Regions from separate parts of the Homo sapiens genome. Here all the other regions are reported to be linked to region 1. Evidence: microRNA targets listed by miRTarBase, many of them from high-throughput screens and not tested one by one. Region 1 holds a microRNA gene; each other region holds the end of a gene's coding sequence.

What was found. Region 1 holds the annotated microRNA hsa-miR-6788-5p (CUGGGAGAAGAGUGGUGAAGA, at 2,163-2,183, shown strand). A microRNA usually pairs through its seed, bases 2 to 8, with sites in the 3' UTR of a target mRNA and lowers its output. Matches are read on the target gene's strand: a 7mer-m8 pairs with bases 2 to 8, a 7mer-A1 pairs with bases 2 to 7 and ends in A, and an 8mer does both.
Region 2: miRTarBase lists SLC60A1 as a target of hsa-miR-6788-5p. Seed matches in the 3' UTR shown: 7mer-A1 at 2,567-2,573 and 7mer-A1 at 2,433-2,439.
Region 3: the mRNA of ABI2 is a reported target of hsa-miR-6788-5p. Seed matches in the 3' UTR shown: 8mer at 1,008-1,015.
Region 4: the mRNA of TIAL1 is a reported target of hsa-miR-6788-5p. The part of its 3' UTR that is shown has no 7-base or 8-base seed match.
Region 5: miRTarBase lists NHLRC2 as a target of hsa-miR-6788-5p. Seed matches in the 3' UTR shown: 7mer-m8 at 384-390, 7mer-A1 at 2,129-2,135 and 8mer at 2,265-2,272.

What each region holds. Positions count from the first base shown.
Region 1 is chr18:10,757,807-10,761,806 of GRCh38, reverse strand. It overlaps MIR6788 (microRNA 6788), which reads left to right and starts at 2,158; the gene lies at 2,158-2,223. PIEZO2 (piezo type mechanosensitive ion channel component 2) reads left to right here. Exons shown (of 56, transcript NM_001378183.1): 24 at 696-896; 25 at 1,898-2,102; 26 at 2,224-2,325; 27 at 3,673-3,838.
Region 2 is chr1:205,600,201-205,604,276 of GRCh38, reverse strand. SLC60A1 (solute carrier family 60 member 1) reads right to left here. Exons shown (of 10, transcript NM_181644.5): 10 at 1,359-3,871. The coding sequence ends at 3,816. Among named protein-coding and RNA genes, the nearest start is that of ELK4, 30 kb to the left of the region's middle. RefSeq lists an enhancer at 3,113-4,076.
Region 3 is chr2:203,427,000-203,431,075 of GRCh38, forward strand. It overlaps ABI2 (abl interactor 2), which reads left to right. Exons shown (of 12, transcript NM_001375670.1): 12 at 178-4,076. The coding sequence ends at 353. Among named protein-coding and RNA genes, the nearest start is that of ABI2, 100 kb to the left of the region's middle.
Region 4 is chr10:119,572,142-119,576,217 of GRCh38, reverse strand. It overlaps TIAL1 (TIA1 cytotoxic granule associated RNA binding protein like 1), which reads left to right. Exons shown (of 12, transcript NM_003252.4): 12 at 427-2,753. The coding sequence ends at 553. Among named protein-coding and RNA genes, the nearest start is that of TIAL1, 23 kb to the left of the region's middle.
Region 5 is chr10:113,908,193-113,912,268 of GRCh38, forward strand. It overlaps NHLRC2 (NHL repeat containing 2), which reads left to right. Exons shown (of 11, transcript NM_198514.4): 11 at 88-4,076. The coding sequence ends at 344. Among named protein-coding and RNA genes, the nearest start is that of NHLRC2, 56 kb to the left of the region's middle.

The DNA of each region.
Region 1 (4,000 bases):
GATTTTTAAATGTATTAAGCAGCCCATTTTCTTTGTGGACCTTCTAGATTTTTCATCACATGGTAGATATCTTTTGTACCAGTACCCACCATAAATAGCTGTTATGAGGATAAAGCAAATTGGTATTTGAAAAGGGTGATCGAATTGTGTCTGGAACCTATGGTTCCATAAATGTTAACTATTTTCATTATCTTGAATAATAGTTATATCATCACTATTATTATTTTACTGTTGTCAGCATGCTTTTCAATCTATTGCTGTCTGTAGCCAGATTTCAGGAGTGTTCAAAAGCTTCCCCCTAAGCAGCTTCCCGTTCATTTAGCTCAGTGCGTCCCAGGATGTCTCTGTACTGTTTTTGCACTTCTGGCTGCAAACAAGGCTGAACTGCCCTCCTTGGATAACTGGAAATTGCTTCCTTGGTGTGAGATGTGTAGTTGTGAGAAGTAGGAATGAGCAGCAGCATCTTATGTTTGGAGATTCTAGATCCTATGACTTTGGAAGTTAGCCTGATTTTCTAATATAGATAATGCCACAATAAATAAGACAGAGAAAACGAATATTGAGCTCAAAACTGCTTAAGAGAGGTGAGCTTTTATAAAACATTGTCCTTGTAGCTGTGCAGAATGTGGGGATTGCTTGAAATTACCAAATCATAAAGCCTCTGGCTGACACATTTGTGTTTCCTTGCTTTGTAGAATAACCTCCTGATGCTGGCTATCCTGGCCTTTGAAGTCACCATTTACCGCCATCAGGAATACTATCGAGGTCGAAATAACCTGACGGCCCCTGTGTCTAGAACTATCTTTCATGACATTACAAGACTACATCTAGATGATGGACTTATTAATTGTGCCAAATATTTCATTAATTACTTCTTTTACAAGTTTGGTCTGGAGGTGAGTTTCCTTGCTGATATGTTTTATTTCTCTTTTCCATGAAAATTCAAAGAACTGCTTCTGGCCAATTGGCCACTGGAACTTTGTGATACATCTGCAGGCATGATAGCTGTCCCCTTGAGAAGAACAGAAAGTATTTGTACTGATGGTTAACTGGCTTGACTGAAAGTTTTCCAAGTTTGGGTGCTGAACACCCCCCTCCACAGCAGTGCCTTGGCCTCTCTGGATCTCCAGAGCCATCTAAATGCATGGCCATCAGTTGCCGTGTTAACAGGTTTCTTATTAAGAATAAAGTATTAATCTTCTGCCTGGGCACGGTGGCTCACGCCTGTAATCCCAGCACTTTGGGAGGCCAAGGCAGGCAGATCTTCTGAGGTCAGGACTTTGAGACCAGCCTGGGCAACATGGTGGAACCCCATCTCTTCTAAAAATACAAAAATTATCCAGGCGTGGTGGTGCACGCCTGTAATCACAGCTACTTGAGAGGCTGAGGCAGGAGAATTGCCTGAACCCAGGAGGCAGAGGTTGCAGTGAGCCAAGTTTGCACCACTGCACTCTAGCCTGGGTGACAGGGCAAGATTCCATCTCAAAATAAATAAATAATAAAGTATTAATCTTCTTTCTTTTTGTGCATTCTGAAACCATAAGCTGCAGCCAAAATGAACTGTTTTAACCTAAAACGATTGTGATAGTGCCTGTGCCTTCATAGAATGAAGTAGGAATGGTGATGTTTCATGAGGAGATCAAAATGGCTGTTCTCTTTATTGTCTGAAGTGGTTATGATAACAGCTACTTAGTCAGTTTTTCCCTGGGAGTAATCTGTACAGTATTTCTGTCTTCACGCTGAGACACTCAAAAGAGCAAGCATTTGTGAATCTGTGCAGACAGACTTGCCCTGAGGGACATGGGTCTCCGCCATCTACACAGACCTGACACCTATCACCAGTCCCCTTTCCCATATGCCTGATTTTTTTTTTTTGCCTCTTTTCATCTTTACACAGACCTGTTTCCTAATGTCAGTTAACGTCATTGGCCAGCGAATGGATTTCTATGCCATGATCCACGCCTGCTGGCTGATCGCTGTCTTATATAGACGCAGAAGGAAAGCCATCGCAGAGATCTGGCCCAAGTACTGCTGCTTCCTGGCATGCATCATCACCTTCCAGTATTTCATCTGCATTGGCATCCCACCTGCTCCTTGCCGAGGTGAGCCTGCCCTTCCCTTGAGCCGTCTACTTTTAGAAGAAGCCATTACTGAGCGGACGGCTGGGAGAAGAGTGGTGAAGAAGAGTATTGATTGTGCTGTTCGCCACTTCCCTCCCTGCAGATTACCCGTGGAGATTCAAGGGTGCCAGCTTCAATGACAACATCATAAAGTGGCTGTACTTCCCAGATTTCATTGTGCGGCCCAACCCTGTGTTTCTCGTCTGTAAGTGTTTCCACTGCAGGGCCACAGAGTGCTGGTATCCGGGTTTACTGTTAATCATTGTTCACGTGCTATGCATTAGTGCCTTTTGTCTTCCACTAGACTTCGTAATCATGTAAAGGCTTGTCTTATGCATTAATATCACAAGTCATTAATGGCTTCTACTCACCCTATTACATTTGCAAAATTAATAAATCAGTGTTGGAAATGCCATATTCACTTGCATAATTTCACTTCCCCCAACACACACACACAAACACACACACACACACACACACACATTTACACAGCCACCTTTCAAAAGACAGACCAGAGAGGAAGGCTTTTGTGTTTTCTGACTTGGTGGTTTCTGGCTCCCAGTGCAGATAAATAAACCCTGAACATGGGACAGTGGATGCTGGGAGATGCTTCCCAGATTTTAGTTGCTCTAGAATTGGGCTGCAGCCCCAAGGCCTTCCCATGGCAGCTGGTGATCCAAAGGTCAGAGCAGCTCCTCCAAGACCAGAGTGCTGGGTTTTACAGAAAATGCAAATGACTGCCCTGCCTAAACAAGTTTAGGTTTAATTTTAAAAGCAAGGAAGCAGCTTGTGTTCAGGCTTCCAGGCAGGCTTGGCCTCAGCCCTTTGTGGGCAGTTGCTGGGAGGACAGCTCTCTCAGGCTGCGCTGTGCTGTCCAGCACAGTCCACCACCTCCACCTGCTCTCACCACACTTGCAGTGTGGCTTCTGCTTTGGGGACAGTCTTTGGTTACAAATGCAAAGGAGGATGGAAAGGATAAAGAAAAATGAATGTCTGCATCCACCACACATAAAAAGATAAAGATGGGGAAATTGCTCAAGTGGCCTCCTTAAAACTGGTGGGAGGTAAAAAAAATTAGCCAGGCATGGTGGCGGGCACTTGTATTCCCAGCTACTTGGGAGGCTGAGGCAGGAGAATGGTGTGAACCCAGGAGGTGGGGCTTGCAGTGAGCCAAGATCGCACCACTGCACTCCAGCCTGGGCGACAGAGCGAGACTCTGTCTCACACACACACACACAAAAATGTTACCCTCTAAGAGACTCATGAAGACTAGTAAGTAGCACCTAATATTTCTCTCACCGATGTGCAAACAAAATTCAGAGACTCCCCACGTAAGCTCCTGGAGTGTCTGTGGTCACTCTATGCCCTGCAAGGTGGAGAAGGTGTGACTTGGCCCCGACATTGGACTCCAGGATGAATTTTACTATGAACTTTGGGAACACAACTCACTTAGGAGCTGGGGAATGGCTGTTGCTGTGTGATGACTGTGTGTTGCATTATGTAAATCAGAAGAGGATGAGGCGGCTTAATGATCTCACCTCTGTCTTGTTAGATGACTTCATGCTGCTTCTGTGTGCCTCCTTACAACGGCAGATTTTTGAGGATGAGAACAAGGCTGCAGTGCGAATCATGGCAGGTGACAATGTCGAGATCTGCATGAACCTTGATGCGGCCTCCTTCAGCCAACATAACCCTGTGCCAGATTTTATTCACTGCAGGTAACAAGAGCTTCACATTTGCTAAAAGCCACTTTGATGTGTGCATTTCCATTACATTGCTCCTCTATACTTTCTCTGCTATACTTGGGAAACAGATCTGCTGAATTGTATACACTGAAGTTAATAAATGCTGGACAATGTGGTTCAGCAGCCTGGAGGCTG
Region 2 (4,076 bases), not on the chromosome of region 1:
GCTTGTATGATCTGGCCTCTAGCAACCACTCCCACTTGTTCCGTTTGACTCTTCCTCACTGCAGTTGAGCCACACCAGCCTACTTGCTGTTCCTCCAATACCATAAGCATATTCCAGCCTAAGGCTCTTGTACTTGCTGTGCCCCCTGCCTGATGGGATGTTTTCACGTACTTGGATAGCTTGGTCCCACGTATCATTTAGTTTTCTACACAAATAGGACCTCCTTAGAAACGCCTTCCAGAGCATCTTTTTTTTTTTTTTTTTTTTTTTTGAGACAGAGCCTCACCCTGTCACCCAGGCTGGAGTGCAGTGGCACAATCTCAGCTTACTGTAACCTCCACCTCCCAGGTTCAAGCAATTCTCCCACCTCAGCCTCCCCAGTAGCTGGGATTACAGATTACAGGTGTGCACCACCAGGCCCAGCTAAATTTTGTATTTTTAGTAGAGACAGGATTTTGCCATGTTGGCCAGGCTGGTCTTGAACTCCTGATCTCAGGTGATCCGCCTGCCTCAGCCTCCCAAAGTGTTGGGATTACAGGTGTGAGCCACTGTGCCTGGCCCTAGAGCATCTCTTGACATTCCCTATTCCCATTCCATACTCCCTGTATGTTTCTTTATGGTGCTACATTACCCCTCACCCTGTGGCATTCCCATATCCTATTCCATATTCCCTGTATGTATGTTTCTCTATGGTGCTACATTACCCCTCACCCTGTGGCATGTTACGTGTAGTATTTGTTTGCTGTCTGTATGTCTTCACCTGCGGTATAATCCTTGTGAGGCAGGGACTTCTGTCTCAGTCACCACTGTATGTCTGTACCTAGATTAGTGCCTTGAACATAGCAGGTGCTTAACAAATCCTTTTTGACTGAATAAACGAAATTCACTCTAAAAGAACTCTATGTCACTGTGTCTTCTTTTAGTGAATCCGATGTGCCTGATGGGTTAGATTTCCATATACAAGTAGCAGAGGAAAATCTGGGAACAGGGTGATTCCACAGGATTCTGAAATGTCCAAATTCCTGAAAGGAAGATGAGGAAGAAAGTCCTACTTGTGTAACTGAGAAGCGTGTGGTGTAAGAATCGACCTGCCTTTTCCTTATTCCTTATTCTGATTTTATGTAATAGGGAATAGTGGCACTTAGCCCTGCTATGAGAGGTTATTTATTTATTTATTTATTTATCTTTTTTTAAAAAAATTCAGAGTTTCCCTTGTGAGACAGTTTTCTTTCTTCTAAAATATAAGCCACATTAACTTATTAGTATGAGAGAGACCTGCCTCTGGGGAACATCAGACCATTTGTTTCTGAGTGTATGCAAGAGGATCAATTGTTCTTCATAATGGATAACACACTTAATAAGTTTAAATATTTTATTTTAGGAAAGGTACTCTTAGATTTGTGTTAATGTTGTTTTCTGTATTAACAAATTAGTCACAATCAACTTCGATATAGCCATTGATTCTTCTTTCTAAATCTGTATAAAAAGGATATTTTCTTGAAAAACCACAAGAAAAATACAACTGCTTTTTCATTGCCCAGGTCAGTTACTCGCTACAGTCAGACTGCATTTAAATTAGACTGGCATCTAATACTTTTGAGTATTTACAAATATAATTAAAACTATACTCCTAGACCACCAGCTTTCAAAAAAGTTGGATCTGCTTGACTTGCAATAAATATGTACCAAACATGAATAATTTCTAAGCCGCTTATGAGGAGGTTTTAAAAATTACTAACATTTATTAAGCAGTTTGTGTGTCAGGCATATTGTGAGTGCTTTGCTTTATACAAATTCACTTACTTTTTTCAGAATTCCTTTGAGGTAGGGTAGGTACTTTTAGAAATGCCATTTTACATGTGAAAAGTGAGGTTGGAAGAGCCTCAGTAACCTGCCCAGGGCCACACAGCTAGAAGGTGAGCCAGCACTTGAGCCACGTTTCTCTTTCCAGCCAGATTCTCAGCACTCAGCTGTGCTGCTGGTGGTCACAGCTGGCTGACTGGACCAGGAAGAACCTTTTAGTGTCAGGCGTGTGAATCACAGCACTTGGGACAGGTTACCAAGAACCATGATCACTTAATTTTTATATTTATACATGTACATTTGTATATACATAGAGAAAGTGCAGGCAAAACCATTATACAGTTACTCTAATAGCCATTTGCTACTGCCAGCAGTCTCAGGACTGATCCCTGTCTAAGCTGGCAAGTTTACATTCTCCTTGTATCACTACAGGATTTGCTCTGGACAGGAGCTGTAACTCCTCAACAAATCCTGCTTTCAGTCTACTACTGCACAGCTTGAATTGTTCAGTAGGCCCAGCTTTTTGTGAAAGAAAAGGCCTTGCCATGGTATAAAGAGTTTTTTTCCCTCTATAAAAGATGTAAAATTTTTGGCTGGGTGCAGTGGCTCACGCCTGTAATCCCAGCACTTTGGGAGGCCGAGACGGGCAGATCATGAGGTCAGGAGATCAAGACCATCCTGGCTAACACGGTGAAATCCCGTCTCTACTAAAAATACAAAAAATTAGCTGTGCGTGATGGCATGCGCCTGTAGTCACAGCTACTTGGGAGGCTGAGGCAGGAGAATCGCTTGAAACTGGGAGGCGGAGGTTGCAGTGAGCCGAGATGACGCCACTGCATTCCAGCCTGGCAACAGAGTGAGACTCTGTCTCAAAAACAAAAACAAAAACAAAAAAAGATGTAAAATTTTCATTAGGTATTTTCAGAAAGTCTTAGTGCTGTTTCTATACCTTTTATATGCTAGTCAATGTCAGTAGAAAAAAATGGAACATCCATTTCATTCTCCTGGGCGATTTCTGGACCAGTTAGCCTTGATTACTAGCAGTGGTATGCTGGTAAATGTTTAACCACTGGCTCTCCGGGATCTGTAGCTTTTGCCAGTGTCCATGGTAATACTCCCACCAGGCTGATTTCAAGCTACCAACATGCTATCACGAAGAGTGGAGTTGAGACAAGGTGCACAGTAGCACACCATCATATATAGTAATTCCACCACACAGGTACCATGGACGTAAATTACCTCAAGAGCATCAAGATCAAATTAGGAAGTGATATGCTTTGAATATTTATTACCTTTGTTTTAAATGTAATTGATTTAATTATAAGTTTGTATGATTTGATTTTTAATAATGGCTGCATTTAATAACCAGCTGTCAAAATGAAAATTTTACAATCAGCTTTTCTAAGTTGGTATGAGCCAGCTTAGCATACCACTACATTAGTATACCAAAGAGAGCAAGATTCAACTTTTCCTTTTGGTGTTTGAGAATATAGATAAGCTATTGATGTCTGCAGCAGGAATTTAAGAGACTTTGGACTATTAAGTGAAAAGCACGAAAATCCTTTGAGCATGCCAGGGAATAACTTGCAGCTTGTTTTGCTTAAATTGAAATATATCTACATATAGCAATGATCATGGAGCTTTACAATTTCAACCTATTTTTACAAACTTCAATGAAGAATGATCTCAAACCCAGAGTATGGTCCATGCATGAGGTGACAAATGGAGTGAAGCGCGCGGCTGTCTCCTTCCTTCCCATCTGGGTATCTGGACAGCTCTTACCAACAGTCTGAACCAGGGAAGAAGATAACTTGAGAAGCCAGGTAAACTTCTAATGATTTTGACCAGGTACCAGGACTCAATTTAATTTCCTCTACCCAACCAAGTTTTAGTGGAGAAGACTTGAATAGCCATTGAGAGAGCGCCTCCACCACCACCCAGCTTTCTGAAACAGTATGGTCGTGCTGGTGATCAAGAGGCTGAAAGTCTTCTCTTGCCTTCTTCACCCAGTTTTACCTCTGGTAGCACTCAGAGTTTTCCATTCCAATTGATCTGTCTTGGGTAGGAACTACAAAAGAAAAACAAAACAGGTAGCATGTTTCAGCAGCTCTGATGAGTTGCAGTGATGATTCATTCTGAGAGCTTACCCAGGCTGTTTGTTTCTCTGCCATTCTGTGGCTCTAGAGGGAGCAAAGTGAAAAGTCAGACCCCCTAGTTCTGGCGAACAGTTGGTGGAGGCAGTTTCCTGAGACTGCTGTCTAGGGCTTGGGGAA
Region 3 (4,076 bases), not on the chromosome of region 1:
TGTATATGACTGGGTATTACTTAGAAAAAAAAACATGTAAGTTTTGGTTGGTGTTTAGAAAGTCACCATGTTTGAGTGCTACAGGATTTGGGAACAGATAGCTATTCACTGGCTTGGTTCTGTCTTTCTAGGAATATTACTGTCTTTCACATCCTGTTTTGTTTTCTTCCCTCCTAGTTGTGGCAATTTATGACTATACAAAAGACAAGGAAGATGAGCTGTCCTTTCAGGAAGGAGCCATTATTTATGTCATCAAGAAGAATGACGATGGTTGGTATGAGGGAGTTATGAATGGAGTGACTGGGCTTTTTCCTGGGAATTACGTTGAGTCTATCATGCATTATTCTGAGTAAAGCTCAGCAGGGCTGTGCTTGCCTCACAGGAATAGTCAGGTCTTCCCAGATTATCTGAAGGCCCTGGGGATTCCACTCCAGTAAAGTAGAATGAAGGATACAAATGATAAAAATTACACTTTTTTTTTTGGTTTATTCCCCAGTATTAAAAACAAAGCAAGCTGAGTCTGAACAAATGGATCTTTCTGCCATCATTTGTACAATGCTGAGCTGTCTGGATTGAAATAAAATGACCATTTTTATGTATGTCAAAGGTATAACAGCATAACTGTGTAGCCAAAACAAAATCAGATTAAGACTGATTCAGAAAAATCTGGGATCTTTCTCAGGAATACTGTATACCCTTGGGATTTCTCCTCCTGCAGAATCTGTGGCATTGGATGTTCTTCATTGCCTGTGCTAAGGGGTTAACCTCATGGCCCAGTGGGTACCCTAGCCCCTTCTTTTCTTCCACTTGTATGAAGAGGAGGGAACCAACATTTAAATACCACACTTAACCATTTTTACAATTATTTCAGATGGCTTTTTTCCTCTGTGACACTGTAAATTCTGCATTCTCTCAGCACTTGAGTGCACCAAACGAGTGAATGCTGAACTCACTTGCATCCCTTCATGTTTCTGTTTGTGGATTATAAGGATGATGAAATGTGAAAGTCTCCCAACACTCTGAGGGTGGTGAACGATTGCCACCCGTTTGATTTTAATGTGCTGCTGCATGAGACTGCATTGTTGCTAATGGCCAGTGTACCCAGATGTGAAGTGTGGTAGGCTGGTTCATATGTGGAGGTGGGTGTGTGAAGCTAGACACGAAGGTCCCTAAGGTTCTGAAGAGACTTGAACTGTGGAAATGCTCTTAGCAGGCATCCCGAACCCCTGCTTCGGTGCTGTTTTGAGGAGTAGGATCTTGGAGTTCAGACCAACTATGACTATCATTTCCTTCACTATCTAGAAAAACGCTATTCTACTTTGGAAGAGAATAGTAGTTATTTTCAAGTCTCCTGACAGTCACTGGGAGTACAAGGTTTGCTAATGTGCTCTCTGGACGTTATTAATGGCCAGTATTAGTTGCTGCTGTATTACTGACTCGCTTAGCTGTAGAAAGGGTAATACTCTCCTGATTTTGTATGATTGGACTCTTAAGTAGCTGCTGTTAGTCAGAATTAAAACCCATCTCAGACTAAGAATATAATGAATAAGATTAATAGGCCAAAATATGTATCTAATCACATTGATAAAAATTAATATAACTGACACAATAAAACACATTTCCCCCATCTGTACAATAAATACAGCTTCAAATTCAGTGGAGTCTGTAGGGCAGATAACTTTAATCATCACTACTGTAGTCAGTATAAGAAATGCTGAAAAAAATCCAGGAGGGCTTGTCTCTTTGTGGGTGGTCACTGTGATGTTGGGCCAGCTCCTGTTCAGGTCCAGAGCTGCTAACGTGGGTTCTACTCAGTCCCAGTGACTTGGCCAGAATAGAGCTTTGCCAGGTAACTGCCCTGTGCTAGGTGAAAGGGGAAAAGCAGTAGCTGGATATATTTCAAATGAGGTTTTGAACAAGTTCAGAAAGTGGAACTTGATTGAAAAGTGAACAAGTGTAGTAGTGTGTGAGAAAATTCAGATGGTGTCGGATGCAGAAGTTAATATTCCACTTAATGTTATCTGAGCATTAAAAATCATCAGCATTTAACTGAGACCCCACTATAGAGTTTCCTTATCAAGACTTTTTGGTTTTAAAGTTGTTTTTAATGCATTGCAAGTTACAATAGCTATTTTGCTTTTAGATTTTTCCCAGCACTTTGTATTTATTAGCTTTCATTAACTTGCCTCCAGTATACATTCCACTTCGTGCTTTTCTTAGGTCATTTCTACATCCCTTATTCCTTGTTTTCCTGCAGTGTAATGGCCCTGAATGTCCTCTGAGCCTTCAGCTCCATTATGGACCCAAACTAGACTATACTTGGATAAGTTAAGCTCTTCTTCGTGTACTGGTCTATAATTAGAAAAACTGTTTTAAATTAGATGTTCCCATTATTTATTTAAACAGCTTTTTGCTGAGAAAGCTTAGTGGATTAATGAGGCAGAGGGTGTTTTGAAATCCAATAAATAGTTCCCACAGGCTGGGTGTGGTGGCTTATGCCTGTAATCCCAGCACTTTCGGAGGCCGAGGTGGGTGGATCATGAGGTCAATAAATTGAGACCATCCTGGCCAACATGGTGAAACCCCATCTCTACTAAAAACACAAAAATTAGCTGGGCGTGGTGGCGCACACCTGTAGTCCCAGCTACTTGGGAGGCTGAGGCAGGAGAATCACTGGAACCTGGGAGGCAGAGGTTGCAGTGAGCCGAGATTGTGCCACTGCACTCCAGCCTGGTGACAGAGCGAGACTCCATCAAAAAAAAAAAAAAAAAGTTCCCACAGCTCACCACTACAGAAGCAGGGAAGACAACTATGCAGAAAACAGAGTTAGTGGCGGTCAGCAGGAATGCAGCTGGTCTTTTGGACCCCTACGGGATGGGGGCAGTGCAGAAGACACTGGTGAAGTCCTTTATACTGAAGACCTGTGGTTGGGAGCAGGGGTAGTCCATGGGTCTGCTGATTTTTTTTCCCTATTTAGTACTAATGTGTGTGTGATCTTTGTTTTACAAACAGTACCTTTTGGGTTTTCTGCATATTTTATAATTTTTGTACAGTTTTGAATTCTATAGATTGTCTTGGAAGGATACTGTGTGATGGGTCAGGCACACAGTAATTGGAGACTTTTAATGTATGTAATATTTCATAGATTGCATGCTATTAATCATCTGTGAGGGTAGTATTTTTTGTTTTATTGTAAGTTTCCCTCTTTTTTTATAAATTAAAAGATGGTTGGTATTAGGAATTTCAAATGAATGCAGAAAATCTTACATGCTGTGTACTATTAATATTATAACAGACGATCCAAGTCCAAAATCTGACCAATAAAGCAACCATTTTATCAAGATAGAGGGATTCTAATGGGAGAGGGGATTCTTCCCTCCTGAAGTTTGTGTGTCCAGTCCCCTTAAAAAAAATGAATAGTTGTCTTTTCTTGTCATATTAATACTCGAAAGTCCATGGTGGTATTAATGAAAGTACACTTTATTGTTGCCTTTGAACTTACGGCCAAGGCAATAAATCAGAAACAAAAATAGTGCCAATGTGTCAAAATCGACATCTGAGAGATTCAGCCTCCCATTTGGAATAAATATGAATCTTCTAAGCTATCTTGTTTAATATTTTCCATCATTTAGCTACTTCCTATCTCCCTCAGAGGCGCCTGCTGTTCCCATTTTAGAGTTGACAGTGGCCTGCTAATTTTGCTATGTTCCTAAAAGTTACTGGGTGTGAGACATTTTCATCCCCTCCTTTTTCCTACTGCTGGTGTTTATTATCCAGCTAGACAATATTTTATGCATATTTACCGTGATGTCTGGACCGTACCTGTGCTCCTTGGCAGTTTATGTTGAAGATAACTAAAGATTTTTCTCTTTGGGAGGCATCAAAATGATGGTAGTTTGCTTTTATCTTTTTATGTTCATTTTCTTTTAGTAGGTGACCTTTCTGCATTAAGAACTGTTTTTATCTTTTACTACCTTTTCTTTTCTCCTTTGTGGAGACAGCATGACATGTCCTGAAGGTCACCTTTGCCTTTGAAAAAGGTTTGATGGAGGAATTCACAGGTGACTGACAAGTCT
Region 4 (4,076 bases), not on the chromosome of region 1:
TTTTTTTTTTTTTTTCTTTTGTTGATAGAGTGGTTTCCTCCTTTGTAATTCCCCTGCCCAGGGCCAGCCCATAGCTTTATTTTCAGATTTCTTCCTTTGAGACTGTTTCCAACATGAACTTGTTTTTAAAATTTCTTATGTAATAGATGATGTGTTGAATCATTCACAATTTTTAAAAAATTAGTTTGCAGATACTCCTCAGACATCAGTGTGTTAAGTTGTGGTTATCTTAAAAATATCAAAGACTAATACTGGAATATGTATTCTACACATATATCATTTATTTCTTTGATCTTTCTATTTGTTGTAGGTGTGTTGATTTCTGGTTTTCTATTCTGTGATTAGGCTCTGCTTGATTTTTGTGTAAATACATATGTGATTTTTTTTTTCTTGTGTTTGCTGAAGATTTTTTCTTTTTCTTCCAAGTCAATCACCTTCTGCTGCTTGGATGGGTGGATTTGGTGCTCAGCCTCCCCAAGGACAAGCTCCTCCCCCTGTAATACCTCCTCCTAACCAAGCCGGATATGGTATGGCAAGTTACCAAACACAGTGAGCCGGGACTCTAAAAAAAAATTGTAATTCATGATAGGCTTCGATTTCCTGTGACACTCTGAAGACATGAAAGTAGACATCGGAAAATGAAAATATTTATTTTAAAAATTGAAATGTTTGGAACCTTTAGCACAGATTTGCTTTGGTGAAGGACACGTGTCTTCTAGTTCTGCCTTTTTAAGTTTTTGTTCATGATGGATATGAACATGATTTTTCTTTATGTACAAAAACTAAAATAAAGTCAATAAAGACAATTCTGACTACAAATTTTGATATAATAGGAAAAATGGCTAATACATTTTGATTCTTAGATACTATTCCATTTTTATCTTGCTGTTCAGTATTTTAACTCACTGTGTTTTTAAAAGAGCAAAAAAGGGAGGATCGTGAAAACCTGGGAATCACATATAAGTTCATCCTGAATCCTGATACTCCCCTCCCCTTCCCTGAGGTGGACCACATTTGAAGTCAGCAGAGAAAAAGTGTGATATTCAGAAGAAATGCGTGATTTTGGAGTCGCTTTGGAGGAAATATTTTCTTTCTCTATGCCTAAAGAAACTGAAGCCAGACTGAAGTTTTGCACCCTAAAAAAGGAACAGCATTGTTTGAGTTACTTGAGCAAATGTTGGTGGTCCACGTTAAGACATATTTTTAAAACTTCCAAAAGTGTCGATTATTAAAATTGTAGTATTTTACATTTCATTTTGGGGGGAAATCCAAGTATGGTGTTTGTATTGAAGTCAGACAGTCATACTTGTGCTTTTACATGAAGTTTAAATGATACATATTGTAAATATTCAATAACTACAGTGTTTAAAAAGCATGCTTCAACATAGAAGTAGCAGCAATGTAATTATTTGAAGTAACACTTAACACACTCCGCTGCATTGAATGCAGTGGATTGATCAGAATGTTAAGACTGACATTTCCAAGGTTGGCTACTATGTAAAATTAAAATTACACAAATTGTGCAGAAAAAGCCTTAATTTTAATTTCATACAATCTTTGATGCATTAGTATGTTCTAAAATGTCATTGGGAATTAGTTTTTTGTTTTTGTTTTTTTTTTTTTTTTTTTTTGCTTTACATTACTTGGTATGTAAATACCTTGATTAAAACCTTGTAAACCAATTTCAAGGTTACTATAAGTTGTATAGTACAAGTGTTTTTTAAAAATCTTGGGGTGTTTTTAAAAATTAAGATATATTTTGCCCAAGAATTTTTTTAACAAGATTGCTAAAAACATCTTATTTAGACACTTCAATGTACCAATTTATAATTGGATATTCAGTTTAAATAGTACACAGAGTTGTGGCTTTTATTTTCAATTAATTTTTTTCCTTGTGGGCAGTGTGCATGGTATAATAAGCCTGAGCAGAGGCTTAAGTTGTATGTGTGCAGAGTTTGTAAAGGAATCAATTGGAAGATGCAGAAGACCGAGGTTTGCTTTCAAGGTATTTTTCAGGCTGTGTGGGTAAAATTTGCCTCAAATTTCTATCAAACAGGAATGTAAAATAGATAAAATCCTATGTATTTGAATTGTCAGAGCTAGGGAGTGCAAATGTTTTGGCAATGTATTCAAAATGCTGGCCTGGGCACCAAAGAGAAAATAGCCTTTTACAGTTACATAGTAAGATGCGATTAGTACCCACAAATTACTGTTTTCTAAACATTTGAAGTTTTACGATTAGCTTTAAAATAATGATTTTATAAATTGGTGGTCACAATAATTTTGGTATTACTTTCCTCCTTTTCCCACTTAGCAATATAGCCAAATGTATTCAACATAAAAATTCATAGGGTCTGAAATTCATAGCTGGGCCAAATTTTTTATGGCACCTTAGTTTTACCATAATGGTCATCTATTACACTCTTCTGTTATAAAATATACCCTTATTTCTTTTGTTTATAGTATCTTTGAGGAATGTTTTTGGAAAAGTTAATTTATATTTTATAGGGAGAACACTCAATAAATTATGTTAACTGTGCCCCCGAGTTAAAAATTTTATGAGTATATGTGAAACTTGAACAACTGAAGACTTTTTTTAATTGATAAAAATGCTTAGTATGCCTGTTTTGGTCTGCCAGTAAATTAAGTAGCTTATTGAGATAACTAACAGCTAAATATAGCTGTAGTGTTTCCTGACTGTATATTCTATGATTTAATAAAATTATCCAGACTAGTTATATTGCCACAGTAAACATGTGACTGAAGTGTCCTTCATCTTAATCTGAAAGAGGGCAAAATTTCATGATCAGTTAATGGAAGTTATTTCATATTAAGTGGTTTTTTTTTTTTTTTTTTTTTAGATGGAGTCTTGCTCTGTCGCCAGGCTGGAGTACATGTAGTGATGAGAACTTGGCTCACCGCAACCTCTGCTTCCCAGATTCAAGCGATTCTCCTGCCTCAGCCTCCTGAGTAGCTGGGATTACAGTCACGTGCCACCATGCCCAGCTAATTTTTTTGTGTTTTTAGTAGAGATGGGGGTTTCACCATGTTGGCCAGGATGGTCTCGATCTCCTCACCTCGTGATCCGCCCGCCTCAGTCTCCCAAAGTGCTGGGACTACAAGCGTGAGCCACGGTGTCTGGCTTTTTTTTTTTTTTTTTTTTGAGACGGAGTCTTGCCCTGTCGCCAGGCTGGAGTGCAGTGGTGCAATCTCGGCTCACCGCAACCTCCGCCTCCTGGGTTCAAGCTATTCTCCTGCCTCAGCCTCCCGAGTAGCTGGACTACAGATGCATGCCACCATGTCTAGTAAATTTTTGTATTTTTAGTAGAGACAGGGTTTCACCATGTTGGCCAGGATGGTCTCAATCTCCTGACCTCGTGATCCACCCACCTCGGCCTCCCAAGGTGCTGGGATTACAGGCGTGAGCCACTGCACCTGGCCATTAAGTGGTTTTTAAAATACAAAGCTACTTATCCAAATGAAATGTACCATTTAAAAACTACAACTGGGCCGGGCGCAGTGGCTCAGCCTGACCAACATGATGAAACCCTGTCTCCACTAAAAATACAAAATTAAGCGTGGTGGCCCGTGCCTGTAGTCTCAACTACTCAGGAGGCTGAGGCAGGAGAATCTCTTGAACCCAGGAGGCGGAGGTTGCCCTGAGCCAAGATTGTGCTATTGCACTCCACCCTGGGAAATAGAGCAAGACTCCGTCTCAAAAAAAAAAAAAGTGCAACTGTTGCCGGGCATGGTGGTTCACACCTGTAATCCCAGCACTTTGGGAAGCTGAGGCGGGTAGTGGATCACCTAAGGTCAGGAGTTTGAGACCAGCCCAGCCAACATGGTGAAACCCCATCTCTACTAAAAATAACAAAAAAATTAGCTGGGCGTGCTGGTGGGCGCTGGTAGTCCCAGTGACTTGGGAGGCTGAGGCAGGAGAATTGAACCTGGGAGGTGGAGGTTGCAGTGAGCTGAAAATGCGCCACTGCACTCCAGCCTGGGCGACAGAGCGAGACTCCATCTCAAAAAATAAATGAATTAATTAAAAGTATGGCTGTTGAGCTAACAGATGATTT
Region 5 (4,076 bases), not on the chromosome of region 1:
TCGATCGAGTTTATCTAGTCTTCATAAGATGTTCCCAGTTTTCTACTTATCTTATACAGTCTTAATAATTTCATTTTTGATTTTTAGGCAATGAATGGCTACTTCAAGGACAGATAGCAGCTGGAGATATAGAGAACATTTCCAGTCAACCAACAATTTCACTACAAATTCCTGATGATTGCTTATCACTTGAAGCCATTGTATCTGTCAGTGTGTTTCTTTATTACTGTAGTGCAGACAGCAGTGCTTGTATGATGAAGGCAATTTTGTTCAGTCAGCCTTTACAAATAACGGATACACAGCAAGGTTGCATAGCTCCAGTAGAGCTCAGGTATGTATTTTAGCCAGCCAGCTAGCTAGCAACCCATTGCCACCACCTACTGTCTCCCATCCTGACTATCACTGTAATTTAAGGAAAGAAAACTTCAGTTCTGCCTCTGGATACCAAGATGCCCATTGCTCAGTTCAGACAACTGATATTAAAATAAAGCTATGCTCCTTACTTACTTCTTTTATTATAAACAAATTCCTTTGCTTTGGCTGATACTAGCTGAGTCATTGATCATCATTGGTACCATGATATTGTAATCTATGCTGCTATTTGGCACAAGACTGAAGTTCACACTACAGTAGAGAATACTATAAGATAATTTGCAATAAATACTGATAATAATAATACCAGATATTTTAACTAACTTTTTCTACCTTTATTAATAGCAATCAGCACACTTGAATGTGTAAATTTCACAGTAACTTTAGGCAGAACTTAAGCTCCAGGCCACATTTGTATAAGAACACCAAGTATTCAAGGCATAAAGTCTGTTGTAAGCCAAAAAAAAGTCTTTTCATCACTGTAGAAGCTTAAGGAGTACATCAGTGGTAAATACGATCTTTATTCTCTTCTGTGGTTTTCTCAGTTGAGATATTTTTAAAAGAGAGTTTTGATCTATTTTTATTATAAATTATTTGTTATTTAACATACCATTATGAATGCCTTAAAACTTTGTACAGATAAAGTTGGACATAGAATCTCTAAGGACTGACTCCTTTAACTGTTTTTGAGTGACTACATTACCAGATAATGAATGAGTCCCCAGAAATATTATGACTTTCAAGGAAAAAGGGACTTTAGGACACATTACTTAGTGTCTGTGATAAATAATTTATTGTGACAGCTAAATCTGATGGTTACATATCTTGTTTTGGAAATGTACATTTCACTTGTAAGCATTAAATGCAGATTTGTTGAGTTTAGGTTTTGAGGTTTTTTTCGTTCCCATATTCAGAATTTAAATTATGATCATTTATTGTGATGTTTTTAAAAATCACTTTTAAGCCTTAAAAGTGAAATTTTCAGTGTGAGGTGCTTTCATGCTATTAATAGATACAGTATATCCTAATATATTAGTCTTCAAAATATTAAGGCCGAAACAGTGATTTAATGATACTATTTTTTAATTTTTGTTGTTTTTTATCCCTAAAAAAAGATATTGGAAAGGTTTTTTTTCTATTGTCATAATTTATAACTACTTAAAAGCCTAATCTTGTTTTCCTTAAGACCTATTCAACATGTTTGTGATTTAATCAGCTTACAAGGGTTTAAAAACATCAGGTGAACCATGTTTATTTATTCAGTAAATATTTATAGACAATATGGCATAATATGCTTCCCTTCCCTGTAAAAACAGTGCTAAATTTGAAGTGTAATCTTTTTTAAACATCATTGTCTATTTTTAATTTTGTTTGAAATGTAGTATTAGTTTGTTTTATTCATAAGGTTAGCTGAATCTCTGAAGTAAGGATGTATAAATCATGACATTGATTTAATTAGTCATCTACTGAAGCTACTTTTAAAGAGAAATATAGATATAAAATTAAAAGGAATCCTGTTTAAAATTATATGTAATTACCTCATAAACCTTTTCTCTCCACAAGCAATCAAAAAAATGAAATGTTCTGTAATAAAAGGGTGTATAACATACTCTCTTTTATGAGAATAGGCCTTAGTTATTTTATTTTATTTTTGAGACGTAGTCTGGCTCTGTAGCCCAGGCTGGGAGGGCAGTGGCGCGATCTTGGCTCACTGCAACCTCTACCTCCTGGGTTCAAGAGATTTTCCTGCCTCAGCCTCCCAAGTAGCTGGGATTACAGGCGTACACCACCATGCCCAGCTAATTTTTTTGTGTTTTTAGTAGAGACAGGGTTTCACCATGTCAGTCAGGCTGGTCCCAAACTCCTGGCCTCAGGTGATCCGCCTGCCTCTGTCTCCCAAAGTGCTGGGATTACAGGTGTGAGCCACCTTGCCCTACTGGCCTTAGTTAATTTTTAATCTCATTTGACTTATTATGTTTCTCATTTCTAGATGGACAGGATGAGAATATTTTGGCCCAATCATTTTCTGTTTAAGGACTTAAACAATTTCACACTCTAAATGAAGTATATACAATTTTAATTTACTAATTTAGAAATATCTGAGTTTATTTTTCAATATAATATACAAACACAGTGTTTGTTATACATGTTCATGTACAGTGAAAATGCAAAGGCATTTTTTAGACTCTATTCCCCTTCATTTGTCTAGACAGTTTTAGGTTAGCCTTAGCTTATACTTTTCTTGACTTTCAAAATACAGTTTTATTGAACATTCTTATTCTTACCCACTGCCAGTCTGCATTGTTTTTTACATTAAAAGTATTATTTATAGTAGACTAATATGATTTTGAATAAAATCACACTTAAGCAATATAGATAGGTTCCTAGAATTTATGACGAGGATAAACCTCTCACATAAGAGGAAGCACTAGAAAGTTTATTTTTAAAACTTGTTGATCCATATTCTATAAGGACTAATGCATATTTTTTATCTTTTGCTTTTCTTGTTGGATAAATTATTATGTCCAGTGATAGTTTAAAAAGAACAAGATTTTAGTGTAAGTCACCTCACTTGAAATGCCAGTAATGTGGTATTACACACATTTTATATAATACCTGGAATCTTTGCCCTAAATTATTCTGCTGGTTTGTCGCTATTTTTTTCCTCTCCTCTTTATTATTTCACAAATGGTAGAATTTCTTGATATGATTCTTGTAAAGAGTTTAGCTTATCTTGAACATTCTGTCTTAAGCAAATATTTAACAAGAGAAAACTTTGTAGTTTAATCACCCATAAGTGTAACTTTAGCAAAATTCAATGACTATGAAAAATAATTTTTTTCTTAACTGTTCTAATAATATTTAGTTATAATATTATCAAACCTTCAGAAAGTTATAAATCCTAACAGCCAGAAAAAAAAATTTACTATGTGTATATTTATATAGGTGTGTGTATACACAAAGATTAAGAATTATTCATGATTCTTTTATGGCCAATATACTTTTGAGCTTGTATAACTGAGATAAGTTACTCTTTGCTTGTTTTTCTGTAGTTGGAAAATTTAGGAAGTTATTAAAAATACATATCTCTATAATGTAATAGTTTTCTGCCTGCACAAAGTTTACTATTAATTTATGTCTACCAGTTAAAAATACGATAGTTAGATTTGGCATCACGTTTAACCACAATCATCAAAATCTACTTAAATTCTATAGTTAACAGTTACATAAGAATATATGCAGAGGGAAAATGTCAATAGTTCTTGTGAATGAAGGAATTATGGATGTTTTTATTTTAATTCTACTTTGCTGTTTTTTTTTTCTTTTCAGTGAGCAATCTGTTATTTTTAAAATCACGGTGGGGGGAAACCCATAAAGTTTAAAGAGTTAAAGTTAACTGAATCGTAAGCACTTATATAATAACTTTTTAAAAGTCATTTTTATTACCAGAGCTCAGAACATTGTTTGGAGTCCTTTGATCTACCGGTTCTCTTAAGTACGTGATTTCGTGAAGATAGCAATGGTTATGGCTTTTTTGTTCTGTTATTTTTATTGTGTAACGTAGTGTAGTGGTTAAGAGCTTGGATTTTGCAGTAACTTGGATTCTAATCCTTTAAAATGGGGCTGATATACCTGCCTCATATTCAATGAAATATTGTGTGTACAGCACTTAGTAATTAATGAAACTGGTAATTATTAGCTTA